Regions from separate parts of the Homo sapiens genome. Here all the other regions are linked to region 2. Evidence: fine-mapped expression QTL. A gene starts in region 2. Each other region holds a variant in brackets. All regions are shown on one strand. Distances are between the middles of the regions.

Region 1 (2,753 bases), 20 kb before region 2:
CATGTACTGCAGCTTCACAGACACCTTCACTGCAGGAGAGAGGACAGCAGGCGTCAGAGACCCTCCAGGGGCACAGACCTGCCCTCAGGCAGGCTGCTCAGCTCAGCACAGACCCTGCCCCGAGCCCACCACTGAGCTAGGACACAAGGTGAGGGAGCCCACCCCACCCCACCCCTGCCTTTGTGAACTTGGGGACCAGCAGTGCCAGTGGCCCCATGAATTAATAATGCACAGCCGTGCAGCGCACTGCCTGATGCACTCGGTCCCTCCACAAATAGCTATTCAGTGCCTACTATACACCAACACTGAGCAAGGCACCAGGAACAAAGACCGCTGTGGGCCGTGAGGAACACAGGACTGTGTTGAGGGCTCCCCAGGATGGTGGATGCGGGGGCTTTCTGAGGAAGTGGCCATCAAGCTGAGTCTAAAGGCTGGGAAGGAACCGGACAAGGAAGCTCTGAGGGAACAGCCTTCCAGGCAGAGGGAACAGTCAGTGCAAAGGCCCTGAGGTGAAAATAAACTTGGCCTATGCAGGAGCTACCTGGCCAAGCTCACGGAGTATGTGTGCATGTGAGAGGGCACAGGAGCCAGCCTGACCAGCTCGTGAAAGCAGACTGGTAATTTTCCAGAAATTGTGGGAGCCAGTGGTTAACATAAATATCATTAAAATTTTAAATAAGCTTACACTTTTACCAAATTATATTAAAATGAAGGTAATAGAAATCCCTCACTCCTGTGACTTCACAGCCTTCGACTAGAGTATCTGCCTGGTGGAGATGCCGCAGGGCATGTGCTGCGGGCATGTGGAGCTGGGTCAGCACGCCTGGAAACCAGCCAGGCCTGGAGTCTTTACTCCAGGGTCTTCGTGGGTGCAGCAGCTCAGGGCTTCTTTCCGGAGGGCTGGTCGTTCCCCACTGGCTGCCTGCTGTTCTCACACCAGGGAAGCCCAGGAGACATCTGACCAGACCCCCAGGAGAAGGCCCCTGCTTCCCCTGCCCTCCTGCCTGGGCCCCTGCCCGCCTCCTCCTCCACAGGTGACCACGTCTCCCCTCTGCCTGGCTCTCCTACTCTGAGTCTGTGTAACCTGGGCCCCTGCCCAGCCCACCGAACATGGCCAGCAGCAGGGTGTAAGGGCCCTAGAGATGTGAAGCACACAGCAGAGGCTGGTGAACCACACAGAAAAGCCACCCGACCTGCAGGAAAGCTGCAGAGAGACCGGGGTAAGAACTGCAACAACAGAGGAAGTGTCATAAAATAACCA[T/C]GAAACAACAACGTCAGACCCACTCAACGAGAACAAAGGTTGGTTAAAACCCAGGCAGGCCATGTAGACATGGAAAAACACAACCCTCTGGCAGAACCAACACTCAGCATCAGCAAAACCCAGGATGAACATGGGGGACCCTGATGCAGAGGAGACCCTTGTGGACCTGGCAGGCGTGGAAGGCTGGCGGGAGCATGTGGAGACAGCTTCATCATGGAAGACAGCAAGAAGGAACTAGAAGCACTGCTGTCAGCACTGCCCTGGCCACGTGGAGGGGGAGGCTGGGTCTGAGAGGGACTGTGGTGTGCTGCGGGCTGCCCAGAAAGCCTGGCCCCGGCCACTGCTGCCTGGCCACCCTAGCCCTGGACCGTCCTGCTTCAGCCGCTTTGAGGGGCTTTCTGTCACTCGCAGCCAGAGGTCCTCACTGGCAGAGCCCAGGACAGCTCTGGAGGGCAGAGGCTTGGTGTGGGTGGGGCCTGTGCCTCCACGGCTGAGAACGACACTTGGGGACCAGGATCTTTGCAACTCACTCAAGTTTCTTTAAGTCCCTTTGTGTTGCCAGCTGAGCACCCACCAGACTCACAAAGTCATCTGCGCCCAGGTTCCCTCCCAGAATTAGCTAGGTGGGCCTGCTATAGAAGCTTGTCTCTATGGAGGCAGAAGCTTTGGGGGGGCCACCCACCCATGGGCATCCCCACCAATGGCGTCACCTCCATCAGCAATGGCTTCCTCCAGCACAGATGTGGCCAGTTCGTCTGTGACCGCCAGGTCCTGGGGGTCCCCCGATGTGCACACCCAGCGGAAAGGCCCAAATCCCTGGGAGAATATGTCCCTGCAAGCACAGATGCCTCCTCACCCTGGGCCCGCTGGCTTGTTGGGGGAGGGGGTGCAGGTGTGAGCATGCCAGGGAGGAGGGCTCAGCATCCAGAAGTCAGGTGTGGAACCCCCTAAGCTGTCATTGGACAGAAAGTTCCAGGGGCCTCCCTGTCCCCTCTCTGTGTCCCAGTGCCCCCAGCCCTCCATCCCTGCCTCCTGGCTGTACCATCTCTAGCTACAGGAGTGGGGAGCTGGGACCTGGGCAAACAGAAATGACCCCAATTGCTGTTACAGATGACAAGAAAATCCATCACCTAAAAGTGACAGTCACATTGAGAGGAGAGTCAACCTGGGGCTGTAGCCTTGGGGAACTCGCCCTAGGTGAGCTTATCTTCCCAGGAGCCAGGCTCCAGGACAGGGCTGTCCTGGGGGGAGGATGCCGTGGCCTGGGCCCTCCCTGGGCTCCTGCACTTGCTAGGCCAGGGGGTGCCTCCTCCTGGGCAGCCCTCCCTCTCCGGAGAGTGCCAGCTGACAGTGCTCAGCCCCTCCCACCTCTGCACCCCACAGTGAGCTTGACAGTAAGTGGCATTTGCCTTTCTCACCTCCATCTCTCTCTCGTCCCATGTGGCACCCACTGAGGACTGGCACATCTTCCAAAAGTCATGTGGTCCCTCCT
Region 2 (2,753 bases):
CCACCACCTACCCACCCCCTCATCACCCCAGCACCCACCACCTAATGTCCCCCACCCCCCAGTGCCCACCACCTACCCATCCCCTTGTCACCCCAGCACCCACCACCTACCTTCCCCCTCGTCCCCCAGCACCCACCAACTAGCCTCCTCCCACCCCCAGCGCCCACCACCTACCCTCACCCTCATCACCCCAGCACCCACCACCTACCCTCCCCCTCATCACCCAGCACCCACCACCTACCATCCCCCCACCCCAGAACTCACCACCTACCCTCCCACCCCCCAGTGCCCACCACCTACCCTCCCCCCTCCCCCCAGTGCCCACTACCTACTCTACCTTGCTGGCCCCTCCCCCATTTCCCTTTCCCTCCAGCACCCGCTCCACCTGCCCCCAGTGCCCCACTCCCACAAGGACCCCCAGCATCCTCCTAGCCCCCCAACTCCCCTCCACCCCCACACCCACCAACCTGCTTCCCCTTTCTCCCTTCCCCAGCGCCAGCTCTGCCCTGAGTGACCCCTACTGTCCCCACTGTGTCCTGTTAGGCCTCTGTGGGTGGCTCCAGAAAAGTCCAGTGGGCTCCGGTGCAAAGGGCAGCCATCTTTACCTGGGGAGGTAGGATTCCTCTTTTAATCTTTATGCTTGTTTGCAGTTTCCACTTCTCTACTGTTTCTGAAAATCTTGAGTAGTTTCCAGTAAAAAGTAGGAGGAAAGTCTATATAACCGTGTCACCTACTTTATTTCATTACTCTTCTCCACAACCCCCTGGTGTCACCATTTTCATCTCAAGCTGACAAATGACAAAAGGGAGGTTCCCAGACAGGGCACCACTGGCAAGCGTGCACCATCCCTGGACTGCTTTGCTGTTAGATGAGGGGATACTGGCCTCAGCCCATCTTTCCCTGGCAACTGCCTGCCAGCTACAGGGTTCAGCCATGCAGCCGCACGTTCTCCAGAGATTTGCGGGAGGGACATTTGCAAATGAAAATAAGAGCTGACCTGTGTGCAAACGTTCTGAGTGTTGGGGTGGACGCGGCGCTTGGTGTGGGACACTTCACACCCACCCAAGGCCTCCTCCCACTGGAGGTGGCCAAAGTGCCACCAGTGACCGGCTGCTGACCTTGAGCCTCAGGGTCCTCATCTGTAAACAGGCACGGCGATCCTGCACCCAAGGGCGGCTGCATCCAAGAGACAGAGTCCACTGTGCATTGCACCCGCACAGGCTGGAGCCCCTGGAGTCCAGGGTGGGCGGCTGAGCAGCTCCCACTAAGAGGGCAGGAAGCCTGGGTGCTCACTATGGACCACCTGGAGGATGCCTAGAGGCCAAGGCCTCGGGAGCACGGGCCCACTGCTTACCTGTTTCTCCACAGGGCTGAGGCTGGGGGTCCTGACAGGGGCATGGGGCACCCCAGCCTGGCGTCCCCGGTTCTCTGGGAGGGGCCGCAGGGGCAGGCCAGAGCACAGCGCCTGGAGGCTAGACATGTGTGACTGAGATGGAGGCAGAGGCCAGCACTGTGGGGAGGCCAGGAAGAGACTGGGCAGATAGGGCAGGGACCTCTAGCCCCAGGGCCACCTCCTCCAGCCTCTCATTGGGCGCCTGGCCTGTGCAGGGAGCCATGTGCAGGTCGGAGGGTCACTGGCCTCAGGTAGGGCACTTGCAGCGCTGACCTGGGGAGGACATTGCTCTGCGGGAGGGCAGGCTTCACAGTGGGGAGGGGGGCTGGGCTCACTTCCCCTTCCAGGAGGGCTGTGCTGTCCGGGACAGCTTTGGGGGTGGGTGGGGCTCTAATGCTGGGGTGTGCTGTGGCAGCCCTCTGGTGCACCACACCAAACATTCGATGTGGGGATCTGCATCTTGATGATGAGGAGATGGGAAGCCATGTGACACTGAACCGGACACAGAGTGTAGAGCCCCTCCTCCTGCTACCTCCTGCTGGGGGGTGGGGTGACAGGTGGAGCGGGAGCACCCAGCAGCAGGTGTGCCCTCCTTGGCTCCCCACTGGAGGGCTGGGTGACAGGTGCAGTGGGGGCCCTCAGTGGCAAGTGTGCTCTCTTCAGCTCCCGCTGGGGGGCACACCACTCTACCCCCTCCCAAAGCTCTTTTTGAAGGACCTGCCTGAGGGATGACCCTCATTCCCAAATCTGTTAACAACTCTGCCAGAAAGCACTCTTCATGAGCCCTATGCTATGGATGGAGAAACCAAGGCCCGGGTCTCCCTCACACAGCCAAGAAGTGGCCGAAGCTGAATTCCAGCAGTCCGGGGGAAGCAACACACCTGGGTGTACCCAGTGCGAGCCTGACCAGCCCTGTGGCCTTTGGCCATGTCCTGTCTACACAAGTGGGTGGCGATGGACAGCTCAGCTGCAAGGCGGTGGAGTGCCGTTAGGCAAGCCCCAGTGCAGGGCCCGCACGTGGAAGCCCAGCTGCCTTCTGAGTGCTTGCTCCTCTGAGAGCATCCTGTGGGTCAGCCCTGAGGGGTTCGTTGCCCCCATTTTAAGGATGAAGAAACAGGTGGAGAGAGGGATGGGACTTGCCCAGGGTTACACAGCCAGTCATGGGGGGAGCTGAGATTGGAGCCCTGAGGACCCAGAGGTCTGGCTCTAGCACCCTCCCATCCACGCTGGCCCTTTTGCAGCACAGGGAGGGCGCCCTTAATGGGGGTGATGTGAGACTGTGATAGAATAAGAAACAGGCTTTGATCTCTTCCCTGTTCCTGCCACAAAGCTCCTGAGGCCCTGGTAGATGGAAACTCTA
Region 3 (2,753 bases), 27 kb before region 2:
GAGCCAAAAAAGGCAAGAAATGCAGCTCTAGGATCTGGAAAGGTAAGGAAACAGCTGGCTGCCCACAGCCTGTAGGTCACCCAAGTCCAGGGCACCCAGCTGGCCCGGTGTGCCTGGCACTTACCGGTTTTACAACTGGAAGTCCCACATCCCAGACCCCCTCAGTCCTGGGTTGGTCACTCTATGCCGAGCCTCTCAGGTGCCAGAACATCTTTCGAAACATTGTGACTGACTAAATGCATCAATTTTTAATAAAATCCAAATCTAAGATGAAAGTTTAAGACATTCTCATCTTCCTCACCTGCACAGAAGGCAGAGCCGTCGTAAATGTTGGAGGTCTCCCTAAAGGGGCTGTCGGTGCCGCTCACGTCATGGTGATCTCGGCTCAGGACCACCGGCGCCTGTGCATGGAAGGACAGAAGCTGTCAGCCAACAGTGTCCACCATGGCTTCCTGGTAAAGACTGAGGACAAGGGGCAGGTCACACCAGAACCCGCTGGATTTCTCCTCCTGGAAAATAGACCCTCTTCACAACTATTTCTGATGTCATCTGTAGCCTGGAATAGATTCACGTGTGCCCGGCAGCACTCGTGTGTAATACATGTGTGAGCTCACCGAGCACTCACAGCCACCCTGTTCAGATAGGCACAACCATTATCATGCCCACTTCATAGATGAGAAAGCGGAGGCACAGAGAGGAGAAGAAATTTCCCCTATATCACAGAGCGAGTGAGTCGTGAGCTGGGGTTTAACCCCACACGTGTTATATGCCGGCGCTCCTCGTCTTACGATGGTGCTACATCTTAATAAGCCCACTGTACCCTAAGTAAAAAACGACTTAAGAGTATTTTTAACTTACGATGTATTCATTTGGACGCAACCCCATTGTATGTCGAGGAGAGTACTAAACAAGTGTCACTTCACACCATTGTAAAGCAGAAAAATTGTTAAGTCCGAGTGTCCACTTAGTCTGGGCTCAAGCCTCAGGCAGCCTGGCCCCTGACCTGTGCAATAGAGACGTGGCTGGCTGATGGCCTGGAGGTGTTGGAGGGCCTCACTGGGGGAGTATTTGGCAGTACCTACCATGAGAC[C/G]TTGGGCAGGTCACTTCCGTCTGGGAATAGCTCTTGGTTTCCTGGATGAGGTAATTGCTAAGAGCCTTTTCGTGCTGCCAGTCTCTCTGAGGACAAAGACTTTTCGCACAGAGAAAGCATTCATGCTGAGTTTGATTTTTTAATACACTCATCGGCAGCACTCCTTGTTCCCCAGGAATCTCCGGCTGCTCAGATACCCAGGAGAGGCAGCCAGCTGCTGCTTTGCCCCCACGAGATGGATGTGGTACAGCCCTGGAAGTCAGGTAGGGCCATGGCTAAGGGCAGGTCAGCTGACTCCCTTATGCTGTGCATGGGCAGGCCTGCTATGAAAAGGAGTCCTGGCCGGGCACAGTGGCTCATTCTTGTAATCGTAACACTTCGGGAGGCCAAGGCAGGGGATCACTTGAGGTCAGGAGTTCGAGACCAGCCTGGCCAACATGGCAAAACCCGTCTCCACTAAAAATACCTAAATTAGCCAGGTGTTGTGGTGCACGCCTGTAATCACAGCTCGTCGGGGAGCTGAGGCATGAGAATCGCTTTAATCTGGGGGGTGGAGGTTGCAGTGAGCTGAGACCACGCCTGGGCTATGGAGTGAGTCTTTCTCCAAAAAAAAAAAAAGAGGAAAGAAAATGAGTTCTAACTGGCAATTTAAAAAACAGAGTGAAGGAACTGGGAGGAACCCTGACTAAAGAGAAGGAGTAGGGGGAGCCGTCGGACACTGCACAGGGAGCATGTCAGCCTGGCTCTGCACCTTTCAGTCAGGAGAGGGAGCACGCAGGTCAGTATGCAGTTTGCAGTGCACCTGGGGAGCAGCCCAGCTGTTTCAGCTAAGAAGTCCTATTCCTATCACCAGGTCCTGGAAACTTTTCAGGTAGCGCTGGTTGATGGGCGTGATCTTCCCAACCTCTCCAGGGGATCTCAAAATTTCACAGGCCCCTGTGCCAGAAGATGCATCCTGACAAAAGCCTGGGATGCCCTGTGCTCTTGAATGAAGAGGTCTGCCTTTCCCACCTTCAACAGGCCAGGCCTGTTCCCACGTCTTCACCTGTGCAATGAAACCACCTTCCCCCAGATATTCTGGCACTTTCTGGCCATTCAGGTCTCAGCTCAACGTTAGCAACTCAGAGAGGCTGTCCTGACCACCGCTCTTCGCCATGTTCATTTCCTGCACGCCGCTCCTCATCCTCTGAAACCCTGTCGCAATGTGTGCCTTCAGCTTTACGTCAGTCACCCTTCACCACACTACACGGGTCTGTCTTGTTCTCTGCTGTGTCCCTGGTGGTTAGGACACGCTGCACAGTGGCCATGCTCAGCCAAGCACTGTCCAGTGAATGGACACATGCTTACTGACCCCTTTCTGCTGGCCAGCTGACCGCAGCCCGGGGCGAGTGCGCCTGGAGCTTCCTAGCAGTCCCCGGGAACACCTGGGCTTCCAGGAAGCACTGGGTGGGTGCATTTGGCTGTGCCCTAGCAGGGCTGGCTACTGCCTTTGCTGCCGGTGCCAGCCCCAGAATCATGCCAGGGCAGTCTTCATACCTCTGTCCCAATGTCTATCTTACACCTGACCAGTAACATTCCTGGCACTTCTGAAAAGAGAGACGCCCGCAAGAACTCTGTGGCAGGAGGAGCCAGAGCCCCTCGGAGCAAGCATGCCCAGGGTTCC

Alleles and levels. Positions count from the first base shown, and alleles are read on the strand shown. Sizes are in standard deviations (SD) of each study's normalised expression. Not every link is listed here.
With allele T in place of C in region 1, the expression in naive CD8 T cells of the gene that starts at base 1,534 in region 2 is lower (large effect, 1.0 SD a copy in Schmiedel 2018).

Evidence for each region. PIP is the estimated chance that this variant, and not a neighbour inherited with it, causes the effect.
Region 1: its variant is fine-mapped to the expression of UROC1 in naive CD8 T cells (Schmiedel 2018, PIP 0.95).
Region 3: its variant is fine-mapped to the expression of UROC1 in minor salivary gland (GTEx, PIP above 0.99).

Annotation. Positions count from the first base shown.
Region 1 is chr3:126,496,080-126,498,832 of GRCh38, forward strand. It overlaps UROC1 (urocanate hydratase 1), which reads right to left. Exons shown (of 20, transcript NM_144639.3): 14 at 1,972-2,093; 15 at 1-29. Among named protein-coding and RNA genes, the nearest start is that of UROC1, 20 kb to the right of the region's middle. RefSeq lists an enhancer at 1,423-2,300. The variant T/C (reference allele first, on the strand shown) is at 1,262.
Region 2 is chr3:126,516,240-126,518,992 of GRCh38, forward strand. It overlaps UROC1 (urocanate hydratase 1), which reads right to left and starts at 1,534. Exons shown (of 20, transcript NM_144639.3): 1 at 1,355-1,534. The coding sequence starts at 1,480.
Region 3 is chr3:126,488,975-126,491,727 of GRCh38, forward strand. It overlaps UROC1 (urocanate hydratase 1), which reads right to left. Exons shown (of 20, transcript NM_144639.3): 17 at 302-401. Among named protein-coding and RNA genes, the nearest start is that of ZXDC, 14 kb to the left of the region's middle. RefSeq lists an enhancer at 90-1,289. The variant C/G (reference allele first, on the strand shown) is at 1,091.